Linked DNA regions of Homo sapiens: region 2 is linked to region 1. Evidence: fine-mapped expression QTL. Tissue or cell type: whole blood. Region 1 holds a variant in brackets; the other region holds the start of a gene. All regions are shown on one strand. Distances are from middle to middle.

The links. PIP is the estimated chance that this variant, and not a neighbour inherited with it, causes the effect.
Region 2: it holds the start of SLIT1, and the variant in region 1 is fine-mapped to the expression of SLIT1 in whole blood (TOPMed, PIP above 0.99).

Annotation. Positions count from the first base shown.
Region 1 is chr10:97,278,353-97,287,574 of GRCh38, forward strand. All of the region lies in intron 1 of ARHGAP19 (Rho GTPase activating protein 19), which reads right to left. The region is part of intron 1 of ARHGAP19-SLIT1 (ARHGAP19-SLIT1 readthrough (NMD candidate)); the gene reads right to left. Among named protein-coding and RNA genes, the nearest start is that of ARHGAP19, 9.7 kb to the right of the region's middle. The variant C/A (reference allele first, on the strand shown) is at 3,252.
Region 2 is chr10:97,181,570-97,191,598 of GRCh38, forward strand. SLIT1 (slit guidance ligand 1) reads right to left here and starts at 4,390. Exons shown (of 37, transcript NM_003061.3): 1 at 3,909-4,390. The coding sequence starts at 4,105. All of the region lies in intron 11 of ARHGAP19-SLIT1 (ARHGAP19-SLIT1 readthrough (NMD candidate)), which reads right to left. RefSeq lists enhancers at 4,234-4,734, 4,735-5,235.

The DNA.
Region 1 (9,222 bases):
GGATTATGTTTCTTTTTTTCTTGACATGCCAAACGTAACTTTCTGTAAGTGACAGAAAATGCTGTCTTGTGCAGACAATGTCAGGACTCTTAGCAGTTTAAATTTAGTCACTTTAAAGCCTGAAAGCTGCATTATTTTCATCCTAACTCAAGATATAACTCAGTGAACAGAATTGAGAAGAGTGTGCCAAATGAGTATCAATCAGGTGGATTGTGGCCTATCATGTCAAAGTGGCATAAATTTATCAATCTAGTAATACTAAAAAAATAATAATTTGTATAACCTACTCACAGTATACAATTACCACTTTTACCACTAGATGGAACCCTACATGTAAGGTGATATGCTCAGTGAAAGGACTGGAAACAATCCACAGCTGAAAAATCAATTACAGAAAAATGAAATGCAAGTGCTTCTGAGGCATGTTGAAGCCATGAATCTGCAAAATTCAAGGCAGTTAAAAAAAAAAAAAACTGCATCCTGCAGATGTATCTTTTGGCTGACTATACCAAAACTGCATACCCACAAAACTAAATGTTTCCTCCCTGGTGAATTGCCTAACTTGATTTGTTTTCCAAGAACCACAACCTTGGCAAGATTTATCAAAATATGAGCTATATTTAAAGTTGTCTAAATCTGATTTACCACCCTGAGAGAAGAATGCCCTCTCTCTTACTGCTTTTTCAACTCTAAAAGGCTCTGAAACACAGCTTTAAATGTGTCACTTTGTTGGAAAGCTGTTAGATAAGAAATACAACTATCAAAGAAAAGACTGTATTCTTCCCTCTTTCTATGTATCAAATTTAAGCCAGTATCATGAAAGCTGTACATAAAAAGAGAAGAGAAAACTAAACAGGCCCTACATGTCCAAGCTGGTGGTGCTTTTTAATACCAGAGACAGTTCAACATTAATAAGTCGTACCACAATTCAGGGAACGATATCCAATTTCTTAGATAAAATTTTTGAAATATTTATACCCTAAGGTCTGCCCTTAGGAGTAGCTGTGCAATGTTTTATAGTATGGACTACAAAATTATCTCTAAGTTAGACTCCAAAAGTCTGCAAATATATTTAGCCCCTATATTTGATCTCAACCTGAACAAATTTCTTTCTTGCTTGCTTTTGTGTGTGTGTGTGTGCGTTTTGTTTGTTTGTTTGAGGCTGGGTCTTCCCTTGTTGCCCAGGCTAGAGTGCAATGGCGCAATCATGACTCACTGTAGCCTCAACTGCCTGAGCTCAAACAATTCCCCCACCTCGTCCTCCCAAGTAGCTGGGACCATAGACATGCACAGCCACACCTGGCTAATTTTTTTTTATTATTTGTAGACACAAGTCTTTCTACGTTGCCCAGGTCTCAAATTCCTGGGCCCAAGTGATCCTCGCACCTCGGCCTCCCAAAGTGCTGGGATCACAGGCATAAGCCACCACGCCCAGCCCAAATTTCAAACTAATAATACAACTTAACCAAAATTAAACTGGCAAACTATTCTGAGATGAAAAAACTCTTGATTGCCTACCTTCTTAACCTAAACATTTTTGGAATCCTAATCTAAGATTCTGCCCTATGGAATGACAATGTAATATTCTCAGTCAAGAATGATGAGTATAAATAATGCCAATTTACTCACTCATTTATTTGCTTGGTAATTTTTATCTTTCTGGGTGTCATATGAATAAGCATTAATTATGCTGCTGACACCTTCCTTAATTTTTCTCCCTCATGCTAGTGTACAATGGGAAGAAAGTTATTTGTATTAAGAAAGTAACATCAGGCTGGGTGCAGTGGTTCACATCTGTAATCCCAGCACTTTAGGAGGCCGAGGTGGACAGATCATTTGAGGTCAGGAGTTCAAGACCACCCTAGCCAACATAGTGAAACCCCATCTCTACTAAAAATACAAAAGAATTAGCTGGGTGTGGTGGTGCACACCTGTAATCCCAGCTACAAGGGAGGCTGAGGAAGGAGAATCACTTGAACCCGGGAGGCAGAGGTTGCAGTGAGCCGAGATCACACCACTGCACTCCAGCCAAGGTGACAGACCAAGACTCCATCTCAAAAATAATAATAATAATTAAAAGAAAAAAAAGGTAACATCAAAATTCCCTATTAACTTGGAAAAAGTTCTATAGGATGCTTCACTGATAATACAGTCTCTTTCTTACCATTTATCTAAAAAATATTTGCTCCTCAAAAAATCAGAGTCAATGCTTCATGAGTCTCTCTTTTCCTATTTTTTTTTTTTCCCCTAAGACAGGGTCTCACTCTGTTGACCAGGCTGTAATGCAGTGTGCAATCATAGTTCACTTCAGCCTTCAACACCTGGGCTCAAGGGATCCTCCCATACTCCCACATCAACCTCCCAAAGTGCTAAGACTAAAGGTGTGTGCCACCACACCTGGCTAATTTTTTAATACAGCCCAGGGTCTCACTATGTTGACCACACTAGTCTCAAACTCCTGGCCTCAAGCGATCCTCCCAGCTCAGCCTCCCCAAGTGCTGGCATTAGGCATGAGCCACTGCACCCAGCCTCCTACAGACTTTTAAGTGCCATGAGTCTCAGGCAATTAAAACTAGAAGTACTTCTACGTATGATCTGATTAGGTCCTAAAAGACTACTTCTATATTCATTTGTTCCAAAGTTCAGAGTGACACATACTATCCAAGAGACAGCTAATGGTTTTTGTTCTGGCACATGACTTGTTCATATCTACACAAGTTCACAAATTGAAAATTCTTAAGAGTTTCTGGCCAGGCACAGCGGCTCATGTCTATAATTCCAACACCTTGTGAGGACAAGGTGGCAGGATCACTTGAGCCTAGGAGTTCAAGACCAGTATAAGCAACCTGACAAGACTCTGTCACTACAAAAAAAAAAAAAAAAAAAAATTGTTTTTAAATTAGCCAGGCATGGTTGCTTGAGTCTACGGTCCCAACTACTCAGGAGGCTGAGGTAGGAGGATCACCTAAGCCCAGGAGGTCAAGGCTGCAGTGAGGTGTGTTCTTGCCCCTGCACGCCAGCCTGAGTCATAACAGAGTGAGACCCTGTTTCAAAAAAGAAAAGAGTTTCTATACTTGTAGTCAGCCAGAAATATTCAATATTTCACAAATTTAACTATAAATCTTTTCATCAACCAACATAAGAAGGTGAATTGCTTTTCTGAGACATATGGTACCCAAACAAGAAATCGATCACTTGTGTGTCATTTAAAATCAATCCAATCATGATCTACTAATTGCTTTGTAACTTTA[C/A]GGTATTGTAAGGTATAGGGGACAAAAACTAAGGTAAGTCTCTGGCCTCCAGGAACTGAAAATTCACTAAGTGCTACGCGATTTCAAATAGTAGCTAAAGACCACAACGCAAAAGATGATACAAGATCATTAATAGCCAAATGCATGATACAGACAATAAAGGCTCTAAGAATTCAGGAGAGAATCTTTTACCCATATACAAGAGATTTGAGCTAGATCTTAAAGACGTGTAGGAGTTAGACAGTGGGAGAAAAAAAGAGCTAATACTTAAGGTGCTTTTTGGTTTCTCAGGGTTTTTTTAAGAAACATAAAATGTTTTCGCCACACATTAGTGGCCAGCCCTTTTCAAAACATAAATTTAAAGAGAGGTACACAGGGGAGTTACAGAGATAGCACAGTGGACATCTGCTGCTTTTGAATTCCCAATACGTATTTTCCCCTTCCTCTGGTAACAGCACCCCCATTTTCCTTTAAGCAATAAACCTCTCCCCATCTTTCGAATCTATGTGACCTGGTGGGCACTGCCTGTGAGCATGTCATCCAAGCTTAACCAACTGAAACATTCTATTCCCTTCATGAATCCAAGCAAAGGCCCACAAGTCAAACCAGGACAAAAAGTCTCAACTCCAAGACTCTTGTGAATCCTAAAATTGCTAAGCTGGTGGGATGTAAGACTGACACCGTTGGTGGCCTATTACTGCCACTTTTTATACAGAATCTGCCTTCTTAGGAAGCAAATACAGAGGAAACCAGATCTAAGACAGTAAAGAGGTAGATATCTAACAACACTGAGATTTGAGATTTTCCATACAGATTAAACCATACTTGATTTATCCCCTGGACTTTTCAGTTTCTTGAGCCAATTAATAGAGTCTCTTTTTGCTTAAGCTAGTTTTAGTTTCTATCACATATAACTGAAGAATCCTAACAAATATGAATGTGTAAGTCTGTTTGTCCCAGTATGAATCTGAGCCCTCCCTTCTGTATCTTCCCCTTCAGAGCAATGGCTGCCAATCAGTCAGCCATGGCCATGCCATCTCCAGCAAGGTCTGGAACTCTGCCCTAGGGACCCTCTTCCTTGTACATTCTAACTCAGCTGATTCCTGTATCTATTTCTATATTTCTTAGAGATCTCTTTACTTCTTACTAGCCAATTCCTTGTTACTCGAATCCCCAGTTATAGTTTATAACCTATTAAATGTTCTCTGTTTAAAGTACTATGTAGTTTCTTTTTTCTTTTTTTTTTTTTTTTTTTTGAGACAGAGTCTCACTCTGGTCGCCCAGGCTGGAGTGCAGTGGTGCGATCTCGGCTTACTGCAACCTCCACCTCCCAGGTTCAAGCGATTCTCCTGCCCCAGCCTCCCAAGTAGCTGGGATTACAGGCGTCTGCCACCACGCCTGGCTAATTTTTGTATTTTTAGTAGAGACGGGGTTTCACCATATTGGCCAGGCTGGTCTTGAACTCCTGACCTCAGGCAATCCACCCACCTCAGCCTCCCAAAGTGCTGGGATTACAGGCGTGAGCCACCCGCCCGGCTGTTACTATGTAGTTTCTATGGCCTAGCTGAATTTAGTTTATATCGGGTAACAGTAGCAAAACATCAGCACAAAATAAATAGGCTCCAGCATCTGTAGAAACAACCCACCCTAAAAGATGGTTAGTAAAAGTGTAGGTGAGAGTGTTCACTGAAGGTGACCAGAGGGCATCTTCAGGAGGCTGAGGTGGGTGGATCATGAGGTCAAGAGTTCGAGACCAACCTGGCCAACATGGTGATACCCCGTCTCTACTAAAAATACAAAAATTAGCCAGCATGGTGGCGCATGCCTGTAGTCCCAGCTACTCGGGAGGCCGAGGCAGGAGAACTGCTTGAACCCAGGAGACGGAGGCTGCAGCAAGCTGAGATCATGCCACTGCACTCCGGCCTGGGCAACAGAGTGAGACTCTGTCTCAAAAAAAAAAAAAATTGTATTTCAATCACTCTTTTGCTATACTGTTTCCAACCAGAAATGATGCACTTATTGGGAGGAAACTGGGAAACCAAGATAGAAATCAGATCTTGGATGGGTCATATTTTAGATAAGAGGCATTACAGTTTAAGACTCAGAAGGAACCAGACATGGTGGCTCACACCTGTAATCCCAGCACTTTGGGTTGCCAAGGTGGGAGGAGTACATGAGCCCAAGAGTTTGAGACCGCCTAGACAACATAGTGAAACTTCATCTCTATTAAAAAAAAAAAAAAAAAAACTGTCTCAATATTAATAATGGTTGTATCTATCTGGTAAATTGGAGTGGCTAGTTTACCATTTTTCTACATATTTTTCTTTCCTTTTTTTTTCTTTTTTTTAGAGACAGGGTCTCACTCTGGCACCCAGGCTGGAGCACAGTGGTGTCATCATAGCTCACTGCAGCCTTAAGCTCCTAGGTTCAAGCAATCTTCCCACCTCATCCTCCCCAGTAGCTGGGACTACAGGTGCACACCACCACACCTAGCTTTTTTCTCTTATTTTTATTTGTATTTTTTGCTTTTTGTTTTTGAGACATTGTCTCACTCTGTTGCCCAAGCTGGAGTACAGTGGTGCAATCTTGGCTCACTGCAACTTCTGCCTCCCAGGTTCAAGCGATTCTCTTGCCTCAGCCTCTTAAGTAGCTGGGATTACAGATGTGCGACACCATGCCCAGCTAATTTTTGTCTTTTTAGTAGAGACAGGGTTTCACCATGTTGGCCAGGCTGGTCTCGAACTACTGACCTCAAGTGTTCTGCCCACCTTGGCCTCCCAAAGTGCTGGGATTATAGGCGTGAGACACTCAGACCAGCCCCCATTTTTTTCTACATATTTTTCTAGCCTTCTGTAGTAAATATTATATAAGTTTATTTCATAGTGGGGAAGAGGGGAAAAAAGTATATACTGGGGGTTTTTTGAGGCAAGGTCTTGTTCTATTGCCCATGCTAGAATGGTGGCATACTCACGGTTCAGTGCATCCTTGACCTCCCAGGCTCAAGCAATCCTCCTGCCTCGGCCTTCCTAGCAGCTGAGACCAGAGGCATGTGCCACCACGCCTGGCTAACTATTTTTATTTTTAGTAGAGACAATGTCTTGCTAGGTTGCCCAGGCTGGTCTCAAACTCCTGGGCTCAAGTGATCCTACCACCTCAGCCTCCCAAAGTGGTAGGATTACAGATGAGAGCCACCACTTTTAGCCAAACTATATACTCTTAACAAAAAAGAAAGAAAGAAAAAAAAGCATATACTTTTTTTTTTTTTTTTTTTTTCCTGTGAGACTGAGTCTCGCTGTGTCGCCCAGGCTGGAGTGCAATGGTGTGATCTTAGCTCACCACAACCTCCGCCTCCCAGGTTCAAGCGATTCTCCTACCTCAGCCTCCCAAGTAGCTGCGATTACAGGTGCATGCCACTGCACCCAGCTAATTTTTTGTATTTTTAGTAGAGACGGGGTTTCACCATGCTGGCCAGGCTGGTCTTAAACTCCTGACCTCAGGTGATCCGCCCGCCTCCGCCTCCCAAAGTGCTGGGATTACAGGCATGAGACACTGTGCAAGGCCGAAAGTATATACTCTTAAAGCTTCAATGGATTTGTAGGTTGTAGATGTTCCATATAAAAAATGGCTGGACACAGAACAATGCGAATGTAGTTAACATTAATTAACTACACACTTAATAGGTAAGATGATAAACTGTTATGTTTTTTAATACAATTTTTTAAAACAAATTTATTTTTATTTATTTTTTTTAACAACAGGGTCTCAGTCACCCAGGCCAGAGTGTAGTGGCGGCATTCTAGCTTATTGCAGCCTCAAACTCTTGAGCTCAAGTGATCCTCCTGCTTCAGCCTCCCAAGTAGCTGGGACTGCGGGTATGTGCCACCATACCTAGATAATTTTCTCTTTTTTTTTTTGCTTTTTTTTTTTTTTTTTTGAGACAGAGTCTCTCCCTCTGTTGCCCAGGCTGGAGTATAGTGGCACAATCTCGGCTCACTGCAACCTCCAGCTCCCAGGTTCAAGCAATTATCCTGCCTCAGCCTCCCTAGTAGCTGGGATTATAGGCAACCGCCACACACCCAGCTAATTTTATATTTTTAGTAGAGACAGGGTTTCACCATGTTGGCCAGGCTAGTCTCGAACTCCTGACCTCAAGTGATCTGCCCGCCTCGGCCTCCCAAAGTGCTGCGATTACAGGCGTGAGCCACCATGCTTGGCCTAAGCCAAATGTAATGTTTACAGCAAAAAGTTTACAGATTTCCTATATCACTCTTTATAACACTACCGACCCAATTGTTCTGACCAAAGTAAACTTGTGCAACAATATCTGCTTTGCTTTATGCTGTGGTTTCATGCCACTTACCAGTTTATGCAGATTAATTTTAAAATTCTGTTTTCTTCCTTCCCCTCCTTCCAAGACAGGCCTTATTTACAAATATGATCAAACTCTCTAAACCTGATCATTGATAAAATGTAAAATAAAACCAGATTCAAGAAAATCCCCTGAAGAAATCTACTCCTCATTACCCTTCAGATAGAATTTAACAGCACAAATACAAAACTAGATTCAGGTTTTCTCACTTAACTGTGCATGTAAGAACAGACAAGTCTTCCTGGGATCAATAAAGGTTTAAACCTTTTAAACCATTTTTCTCGAAGGAACACATTACTGTCTTATTACAGAAAAAGCAATTTAACCAAAAGGCTCAGGCCAGGCACGGTGGCTCACACCTGTAATCCCAACACTTTGGGAGGCCAAGGTGGGTGGATCACCTGAGGTCAGGGGTTTAAGACCAGCCTGGCCAACATGATGAAACCCCATCTCTACTAAAAATACAAAAATTAGCTGGACGTGGTGGCACATGGCTGTAGTCCCAGCTACTGAGGAGGCTAAGGCAGGAGAATTGTTTAAACCCAGAAGGCGGAGGTTGCAGTGAGGCACGATTGCGCCACTGCACTCCAGCCTGTGCCACAGAGCGAGACTCCGTGTCAAAAAACCAAGGCTCAGAAGTCATGTTTACTAACCAATATTCCATACCTAAGGTATATGTAAATTAACAAGACATAGAACCCTTTCCACATCTTCAGACACCTCCCCTGTCCTCCAGAAACATTTCCAGGCATTCTACTGTCTGTTCCTAAGCTGGCTCTTCATGTAATAATAGTTAGCACTTTCTTTTTAAGTCTCTTTTTAATTAAAAAATACTAAGCTGTGCGTATTTCCCTACTGCCAATTATGAGGAGAAGTAGCTTTATTTCATTTCCTGCTTTCGCCTTTTCTCTTTGACCCTTAAAGGTCTGTATTATGTTTATACTATTATTGATAAAGTGGATAGTTTTTTTTGTTTTTGTTGTTGTTGTTGTTTGTACAGGGTCTCACTCTATCACCCAGGCTAGAGTGCAATGGCAGGATGATGGCTGTTTGCAGCCTCCACCTCCCGAGCTCAAGTGATCCTCCCACCTTAGCCTCCCAAGTAGCTGGGACCACAGGCGTGCATCACCACACCTGGCTATGTGTTTTTATTTTTTTTATAGGATCTCCCTATATTGCCCAGGCTAGTCTCAAACTCCTGGCCTCAGGTGATCTTCCTGTCTCTGCCTCCCCCTCCCAAAATACTGGGATTACAGGCGTGAGCCACCATGCCTGGCAGTGGATATTTTCTATTTGTGATTCCCCTTTAGTATTGTCTGCTTAAGAGTAACTTGAAGGTATAAGAAATGAAATGTGTTAAATTTTAAAGGACCATTCTACTTAATAAAAACCAGAAATGGAAGGGAGGGGGTGTTCCTCATCAACAGGTCAAAAACATAACATGGGAATCTTTATAGGCAGAGCAATTTTTCCTTGTTTAAATCTTTGGCCAGGTGCAGTGGCTCACACCTATATTCCCAACACTTTGGGAGGCCAAGGCAAGAGGAATGCTTGAGCCCAGGAGTTTGAGGCCCACCTGGGCAATATAGGGAGACTCAGTCT
Region 2 (10,029 bases), 96 kb before region 1:
CATGGTGGCTCATGCCTGTAATCCCAGCACTTTGGGAGACTGAGGCAGGAGGATTGCTTGAGCCCAGAAGCTTGAGACCAGCCTGGGCAACATAGCTAGATCCCCATCTCTACAAAAAAGGAAAAAAAAAGACCAGACAAGCAGCAGAATGTGCTGGGCCTGGAGGCAAAGAGAGAACAGTAGGCCTTCCCAGAGGCCCTGCCTGCCTCCCTCCATCCTCGGACAACTTACCCTCTCTGCACAAGGGGAACCTTCCACAAACCTCAAATACCCAGGATGCCCAGGGCTGGGGGAACCAGCGATGTCCACACATACTGCACTCTCCTGTCACACTCTCCTGGACACTCAAAAGATTTTTTAAATTAAAAACCAAGTCCAACTGAAAGTCAAGGTCGTTGTGGAAGAAAAAAATAACTTAATGGTGACCATGGCTGGGTCTCTCTGCGCCTGGGCAGTACAAAGAAAGGAAGCTTCCCGGGCCGCCTCCGCCACCTCTCCCAGCCCTGGCTCTGTATTTTAACTGTTCATTACAGTGAATTATTTAGCATCCCTTCCCTGCCCAGCTGACCAGCCCCACAGCCCCTCTGGCTGAACCAATTTCCTCAGCAGCTCTGGGGCCTACCCAACCTCTTTCCAGAAGTCCCCACAGCAAACCAATGACCATTTCTTTCCATTTCGGGGGACAGGCCTGGACCCAGAGTTATAGAATATATGATCATAAAGTTGCTGGGCCTCGCAGGCTGCCGCAGAAACTGCCCAAAGGACAAAAGGCAAATGCACAGCTGCAGTCCATAAAAATTTCACAGCCTCAGAAGAAGCCACTGTTTCAGGCTCTGATACTGCACAACACTCATATTGATTAGAGAGAGCATTTGCCACAGTTATTTTGAGTCTGCCTGGGCTCTCACCAAGGCCTCTTTCAAGATGTTCTTTTCCTCTTTGAGCAGCTCTTTCACGGGCTGCCTGGAGAACAGGCGGGCTCCCTGCGCTTTCCCAGTCCAGGAAGCTTTGCCCACATGGCAAAGATCAGACCTGCTCCACTTCCCCAGGATAACTCACCCCTGGCTTCCAACTAGGAAGTTCCCAGAGGAAAAGTTCACATATAGAAAGTCTTCCTGACCCTTCCCAACATCTCTTTCCAGCCTCAAGTCCCATCCCACCCACTGGCCACTGGCCAGAGCATGTTTCAGCCCCAGGGACAAGCTGGTCCATCTGCCCATATCGGGCCAGGCATGCTTACACCCGCAGGTTTTTGGCTCATACTCACACCTGCTGGCTTTTTGCTTATGCTCACGCCTGTAATCCCAACACTTTGGGAGGCGGAGGCAGGAGGATTGCTTGAGCCCAGAAGTTTGAGACCAGCCTGGGCAATATAGCCAGATCCTCATCTCTACAAAAAAGGAAAAAAAAAAAAAGACGTCTGCAAGAAAGCAGGCCCCATGACCTGACAAGCAGCAGAATGTGCTGGGCCTGGAGCCCAGCTGTTCCCTCTGCCTAGATTGCCTGCCCTCTGTGCTTGGCAAAATCCAAACCAACCTTGATAAAGTGGCCCATCCTCTGAGAAACCCCTTCACCCTGGAAAAGGGCTTCTCACCCCAGTGTTCCCACAGTCCGTTCCCTGAGGCTGCCTGGCCCTCTCCTGAGAGCTCACCATTAGAGGTCCTCTGCCCAGTTCTCTAGACCATGTGCCCCTTGAGGACAGGGATGGGCTCACTCCCTGCTGACGCCTCAGCACCCAGGGCAGTTCCTGGCTCCGAAACATTTGCTGAATTAAAATAATGAGATTCCCCTCCCTATCCTATCATAATAATGGCTCTCGTTTAGCGAGCATCAGAAGGTACCAGGCAATTCCCATACATGATCTTCCATCCTCACAAGAACCAGAGACCTTATGTAGCCTCAGCCCCATTTTCCTGATGGAAAGCAACTAAGGTTCAGAGAAGTTAAGTAACTTGCCCAAGGTCACACAGCTAATAGGTGACAGAGCTGGGGAACCAGGCAGTATAGCTCCCAGAATGCCACCTCTTTCCTCTGTACTAGGAAATTTCATTTTCATCTCACTCTGATCACAAAAGAGCTAAAGAGTTCATGGAAGTCTTAAACACTAAAGGTGGTGAGAGAGTAAAGAGGGAGGAGATGACTTTAAGACTCAAGATTCAAAAGCAAAGAAGAAGGGCTAATGTGTCTTAGATCTAGGCTGCAACCAGGGTAGCAGCTTCAGGAGAAACTCCAGTGGACAAGGCAAGGGGAGCAGGGAGCAGGTACAGAGGGGACAGGCATGGAGGGTGACCAGGCCACTGCGGGGGTCCTCTGGACAGATTTCTGACCCTCAGATCCTCTCTGGGTCCACACAGGATAATGCACACGCTGCCCACAGAAACTCAGTTTGGTACCACCTCTCCCCAGCCCTGTAACACACAAGCATTCACACACACACATACACATGCACCACACACACACACACACACACACACACACACACACACACACTTCCCATCTAGATTGCATCTAGATTGCAAATTCTCTAAAACCTCCACGGGAATTTTTCAGATGCAGCCAAGAAGAGTCTGGGGCAAATGTGTGCTCACTAATTGCTGGCCTTGGTACAGAGTCTGATTCGGGAGACAGCTCTCCTCAGGGTCAGATTTCTGTCTCTGACCAGCTGGGGGCCATGAAAATGTGCTCGAAAGTTATCAAAATATGCACACCTTTCCTGAGAGCCACTGCAGTCACCGAGGAGTGTGGGAAGGAGGAGTAGGTAGGTTTCAAAGGAGCCAGCAGCCTTCTCCAAAGCCCTGTTCAAAAATCTCCTGGTGTAGTCACCTCTGCGAGCAGTACAAAGGCCCTGCATGTGACCAAAATCTACACACACACAGCCCATTACGGGGACTCTCATGGCCTCACGCTATTAAGGTGGCCCCTTAATACTAGGAATTCACACAGAAACACATTCTGCAGGAGAGTCACAGAAAACAAAGTATAAAGGTCTGTAAATACACACACTCAAACACACCCAAACACACACACACACATTCTACTAGCTTACTGGGTCTAGAAAAGAAAAGGATCAAGTTTCCTCAAGAATTCACAAGTGAGACAGAACAGGGGAAGAGAAATGCTATTTTTTTATTACTTGTCATGGTCAATATCTTTAACCTTGGGCCCCCCTCTCCAAGCTCCTGACTTCTTGGCATTATCCACCGGGTTCTCCATCCAAGACACACCTGCCCCTTTTCGGGTGCTGAATGTTACATACCCCAAGCCCCATACCCAAAGCCCTCAGGTCCCATTGTCTGCCTGTGTTGGGGATGGCTGGGTGTGGAGGGAGGCGGGTGAGTAGGGGACCAACGCGTGGCACCTGCAGGGGAAGAATTCTCAAGGCTCTGGGGCAAACAATGGAGAAGAAGGGGCAGACCAGAAACTTCGCCTCCATCCCACCCTGCTGCCCTTCGTCAGGAGCAAGCTCTGGGAGCGGGAATCTGCGCAGCTGGCTCAGAACGCGGCCGTAGCCCCATGTGCCCAAAAGGAGACATTGTGCTTGGCGAGTGTGGGAAGTGTCCCTCCTGGGTGCAAGGAAGGCTTTCTGACACCAGTTCGCAGGCACCCTGGAGGAATAAAGCGCTGGCGCAGTGAGGAGGGCCTGAGGGTGCGGAGTGCAGGGTGCAGGGTGCAGGTGTGAGGACGGAAGCTGACAACCCCGCCGAGGGCCCTTTGAATCCCAGGGATGGGGAAACCACGGCGCTCCTGGCTCCTGGCTCGGGAAAGACCCCGGCAGGCACTGACCCGTCTGTGGGCTGCGGAGCCCGGACGGGCCCCAATGGTCCTGCCCCCACCCCCAAGTCCGGAATTGCGTCTGGGTGGGAGGGCAACCTCGGAGCCAGGGAGCCAGGGGCGGGGACCATACTCACAGGCGCTCGGTGTTCCGAGGTATATTCTTGGGAATGGCCTGCAGCCCCGTGCCGTGGCAGTCCACCGTGGTTCCGGTGCAGGTGCAGAGGGCGGGGCACGCCGAGGCACCCAGGCGCCACGCGGCTGCCCACAGCAGCAGCCAGAGCTCCGGCCGGACCGGCCCCGCCGAGGACCCCCACCCGGGAGTCAGCGCCATGGTGCCCTCACAGCGTCCCGCTCGCGAGCCAGACGGCAGCAGCCGCTGACCATCCCCGTCCGGGGCCGCCTCCAGGTGCAGTCCCGGGGCAGAGCCACCGAAGAGCCCGCGGGCTTGCGCGCGGCGCCCCTGCGGGCTGGGAGGCACCTTGCTCCTCCAAGCGACGGCGCCTGTGCGCGGACGGAGGGAGGGCGCCTTGGGCGGAGGGGGCTCGGCTCCTCTGCCGTTTCGCCGCCTGCGTCTCCCTCTCCCTCCCTCCAGCTCCCAACTGACTGCTGCGAGGAGGAAAATGGGCAGGCCCCGCGCGCGCACGCACCCTGCGCACACACCACACACACACACACGATCACACACACACCCGCGCGCTCGCTCCCACCCGGCAGTCATCCATCAATCGAAAAGCACACATCCAGGGCCAGGCTCCTCCCCGCCCTCCCCCGCCGCAGCCCCCCTCTCCCGACGACCACTCAGCGGCTGCAAGCCGCCTACAGTTTCAAAGGTGGAACCTCCGAGGCGCCGTCAGCGGGCACGGGGCTGCGGGGGATGGGAGAAGAGGGAAGGGGGTGTGACTCGACCCGCCAAGTCCTGGCTGTACACACACACACACACACACACACACACACACACACACACACACGGCGAGGATGCGCACATTTAGACGCACGCACCCCGGCACCCGCGGCCCCAGCTGCTAGTCCAGGGTGGGAGGGAGATCTTATTTTGCCGCTTGGACGCCTTCCCGGGGAGTCAGACCCGTTTCCCCCCATCCCCCGACGGCAGCAGCGGCCTCTCGGCCCCACCCGACTCGCTGTGTCAATTCTTGGTTAAGGGAAACCCTGTGCCTGTGCCCCAGGTAGCATCCTCAAGCCACCAACCTTACTTAGCCTGGACTTTGAGGATGGAGCTTTGTCGGGGGGGAGGGTCCACGAAAGCGCTAGGCGGAGTACAGTCTCCTTCCTACCTCAATGCACCCACTTCTCAGAGGGGAACAAGCTAGCCGCATGCCCAGGATGAGAATGGCTCTGATTGGAACACTTGCTCAGCAGGGCGTATTTGTACCATACAGTTACACGGGCTTCTTCCCCCGTTGTAGAAGAGAGGGACAGACATTAAGGGGACTTGGAAATCTGGCAAACGTCTTCCTCCACTCACACCAGCGTTCCTCCATTTCTGACAGGTGGAAACAGATGAAAATGAATATTCCATCTTGACATCAAAGGAGACAGAGAGGGCTGGCATAGCGCTGGGCGGCCTGCTTGGGAGAGAACCCCACAGGCCAGCCCCGTCAGACCCAGGCCTCACACCCGGCTGGGTAGGGACCTTCGTCACCGTAAGGCATGTGTGGACGTGGGTGTGAACGGGACATCCAGGTGGGGAGAGAATTCTCCTCAACCCCAGAAAAGACGAAAGATCTCCTCAACGCCAAGGACAGCTGTGGCTCGCTGGGGCAGTGTCCAGCAGTCGGGGCCTTGACGTGAGGCTGCTTGGCAAGAGGACACAGCTGGGTAGCCCGAGAAGCACCTCCCGTCTCAGGAGCGGCCTGGGTCCAGACACAGCATGGACGCATTTGGTGGGGAGAGTGTCGGGCAGGGTGGGGATAGGGGAGGTTGATAGACTCCACAAGGTTGAAGCCTTATCACCCACCAGGTACCCAAGGCTCAGGCGTTTTCTTTGCTTTTCTTTTCCATGTTGATGAGAATTTTGCAGTCTCTCTACTGTCATAGCACAGTATGTTACAATTTAGGTGGCTGATTTTATGGGCTTTTGACAGTTCTTTTAAAGTTTTCACACATCCCTGTCCATGACCTCCATCCGGTAAGTGGGTTCTTGAGCATAAGTTCAGTTTCTCAGGGGGCAGGGCTTTCTCAGGGGTGCCTGTGTGGTGGGATATTAGGGAAGCTTCCCACAAACCAGGCCGGAGTCTGAGAGGGCTGCCCCTGCCCTGCAGCTCACCAGCTCCTGCTCCATGGGGCCCCAGCCCCTCTATCCATGCTCTCCCCGCAGCCTCAGAGTGACATTCCTCCATGCCCGCTGCTTTGTTTATCCCCTCTTAGTACCTGCAGCTGCTTCTCCACACCCCTGCCCACCCCCTGGCATCCTCACTCGCTCACCCAGACACACACCCCAGCACCTGGCACTTAGTAGGCCTGTCACAGACAGCACTCAGGCTGTTGAAGATGTCTCCAGCCTTCTGCTCCAGCAGTAGCTCCCTGGTCCCAGGACCTCGGAGGGCCCCTTGGAAGCCAAGACCCATGTGGAGAAGGGAGAGAGTGTTGATTAGCCAGGCGACATGCCCCTAGGTCCTCAGAGTGACAGAGTGAAGGGGTATGAGGAAGGGTGGGAGTGAGCAGGGGTGCAAGATCAGCCCTGCCTATGGCTCCTGAGAACCAGCCCCTGCCCTAGAAGCTTCCAGACCAGCCTGGACAGTGAATCCCAAGCAGGCCCTGGGCTGAGTTGCTGCTGCCTGGCAAAGCCTGGCTTTTCCTCTGAAGGGAGGGAAGGAAGGAGCCCCCCAGACCCAGGACAAAGACTCCCCCAGCAGCCCATCACAGGGGGCCCTGCCCAAGCAGCGGGCAGCTCCCCAGCTTGGCTCCTGTCCCTGGTTCCTCCACCCCAGAACCTGGCCAGCTCCCCAATTCAGGAGGCGGCTCGCCATGAATGAGCGCAGCTCATTAGCGTGCCCGGCACATTTACTTGTTAAACAACTGCCTGGCTGGCCGCACACCCCCAAGCCCCACTCTGTTTTTTCAATTTCCTCTCCCATGCCCCTCCCTCTCTTGGGTCTCCCTACCCCCTCCCTGCAGCCGGGCCACCTGCTCCCGCTGCACGGGTGGGGAGGAGGCAGGCCTGGCACATTGCTTCTGCCAGGAATACTCCACCAAGCCTGTCCCTGCTCACCTGCCACCAGCAGGGCAACCCCCTGGAAGGGAAATTTGAGGTTGAGTCTCCCCAGCCCAGTGACGTGAGTCCCCTCTGAGTCCTCTCAGCCACATGTGCTGGGAGTTGAGGGCCACTTCCCCCGTGTGACTCAAGAAGAGAGCGTTCTCTTTATGGCTTCTGCACAGAGTCCTCTCTCCCACCGCCACCAGCCCCTTTTGGAGCACCAAGAAGCGGGAGAACCTGGGTGAGGCTGAGGAGCATTGTGGGATGGATTTCCAAACTGCAAAAAGGAAAAGTGAGACAGAATGCCTTCTAAGTAGACATCTGATAAACACCACTTACGGAGTATCTGTGTACTACATGTGCTGTACTGGAACTCAGCAATTCAACAGGGGACAAGAATGGCCCTGGCCCTCAGTGGGCTCACTGTCCGGTGGGGGCACAGAAACAGGAAGCAGGAAAGCATATTCATTTGGGTGTCAGCGAATGTGGAATTGCAGAGAACCCAGAATGAGGGCACAGAGTGGGGCTGGAAGGCTCCCTGGAAGAGGAGGCACTTGAACTAGGTCTTGAAGGATAAATAGGCATTCTCTGGGCAACAAAACAGGAAAAAAGGCTCTCTCAGCAAAGAGAAGCACTTGAGGCAAGTCACACAGACTGGGGGCAGCATTCTCAATGGCTGAGCTGGGGCACGTCCAGCAAGGCTGGATTGTGGCAGGGGGTTCAGGTGGGGAGCACAGATGGAGGTTACAGAGGTAATGAGGACACACCCCAGAGGCCCTGGTGCAGCCTTTCTCTGGCTTCACTGGGCTTTCAGCATCACCTGGCCTGGCCCTGTCCTCAAACACATGTCTATATATGCATGGGCTTGGAAATGCACCACCTCTGGAACCAGTGTCTCTGGAACCTGGTGCTTCCAGGGAGGTGACTTGGGAGGTAGCAAGGAGAAAGTTGCAGCAGATGTTTCTTTTCTACTGTTTGGGAGGTTTTTTGCTTGTTTTTTGAGATAGAATCATGCTGTGTTGCCCAGGCTGGAGTACAGTGGCACAATCATAGCTCACTGCAGCCTCCAACTCCGGGGCTCAAGCGATCCTCTCGCCTCAGCCTCCCAAAGTGCTGGGATTACAGGCGTAAGCCACCACACCCAGCCTTTGTTCGGATTTTTTACCCTGTGTGGTAGGAGCTAATTTCCCCCTACCAATACATTTTAACCCCCCTGGGGTGCTTATCATACATGCTGATTCCTGTGACCCACCCCCGATCTTCCCAGTCAGAACCTTCAGTGTTAGCAAGCTGGGAATGGGGGGTAGAGGCGGTGCTAATTCTGATGCAGGTGATTCCAGAGACCATGCTCTAAGAATCAAGGCCTGGTGTGCTGAGTTATGAGTTTGGAATTAGACTGAAAACTCTGGGGAGCCATTGAAGGAAGGAGCCTGGCAGGGACAATGGATCTGAGGCCCACCTGCCTTCCTCATCTCCAGGTTCCACACACCATTAGCAAGGATGAGGCATGTGAAAGAGAAAGATGGTCAAGGGAGAGTGGCAGGGGAGTACAAGATGTCAGAGCTGGAAGGGGATTAAAAAATGATCAAATCCAAGCACCAGTAAACAGTTAGAAGCCCAGAGAAATGAAGCAACCAGCCTGACCTCACAAGGCAAAGGAGCTGCAGAGGTGGGCCGTGAATGAGGCCACACACCCGGGCAGAACACAGCATCCAGTCCATCCTGGGCACTCCTCCTGGCCCTGCCACCACAGGGGAACTACGAAAACAGGAGTCTCTGGGAAGTCTGTGCCAGCAGGACTCATGATATCTTAGCTTTAGTCTCTAAACCCCTGGCTATTGTCAAATTTGGAGGAGGCTGAATTGTTGGAGGCTCTCAGTGGCAAAGCCTACAGCAAGGACAAGCTCCTAGACTAAAGGTCAAGTGGCGTTTATAGCCCAGAGGCCATCATAGGCATCCAAGATAACTCTGGTAAATAGAAGCACTGGAAGCAAGAGAGAAGCAAAGTGGGTGCTGGGGTGGGAGAAGAGGAGGAAAAGAAAGGCAGAAAGCAGGCAGACAGCCTGCACTGACAGCAACCATTCATCTATTCATCAGACATTGATTGCATGCCAGCTGAGAGCCACGCACTGGAAATAGAAGAGATCTGTGCTTTGGGTTCACTGGGTTTCCTGTATCTTGTTCACAGTTTTCATCAAATTTAAAGTTTTCAACCATTATTTCTTCACTTTTTTTTGTTCCCTCCTCTCTTTCTTCATTTTTGGGGGCCCCATTTATACATAATTAGGCCATTTGGAGTTGTCTCATAGTCCATGGATGGATGATGCCCTGTTCCTTTTTTTAGCCTTGTTTCTCTCTCTCTTTCGTTTTGGTGAGTTTCTCCTGGTGTATTGTCGTGTTCATTATCTTTTCTTCTACAGTATCTAATCTGCTGTTAATCCCATCTGGTAATTTTTTTTTTTTTTTTGAAATGGAGTCTCACTGTCACCCAGGCTGGAGTGCAGTGGCACAATCTCAGCTCACAGCAACCTCCGCCTCCCGGGTTCAAGCGATTCTCCTGCCTCAGCCTCCCAAGTAGCTGGGACTACAGGCGTGTGCCATCGTGCCTAGCTAATGTTTGTATTTTTAGTAGAGATCGGGTTTCACCATGTTAGCCAGGCTGGTCTGGAACCCCTGATCTCAAGAGATCTGCCCACCTCAGCCTCCCAAAGAGCTGGGCTTACAGGCCTGAGTCACCGTACCGGCTCCATCTGGTACAATTTTTATCTCAGACATTGTACTTTTCATCTCTAGAAAATCTACTTCGGTTTTTTTTTTTAATCTTCCACGTATCTTCTTAACATGCTTATATTTTCCTCTACCTTAGTGTACATATGGAATATAGTTGTAATAACTACATTACCAATTCTATTATATGTATCACTTCTGGGTTTGAAATGATTGATTACTTTTCTTCTTCATTATGGATCATATTTTCCTACTACGTAGTCCCCCCTTATCTACATAGGGATACATTCTAAGACCCCAGGTGGATGCCTAAA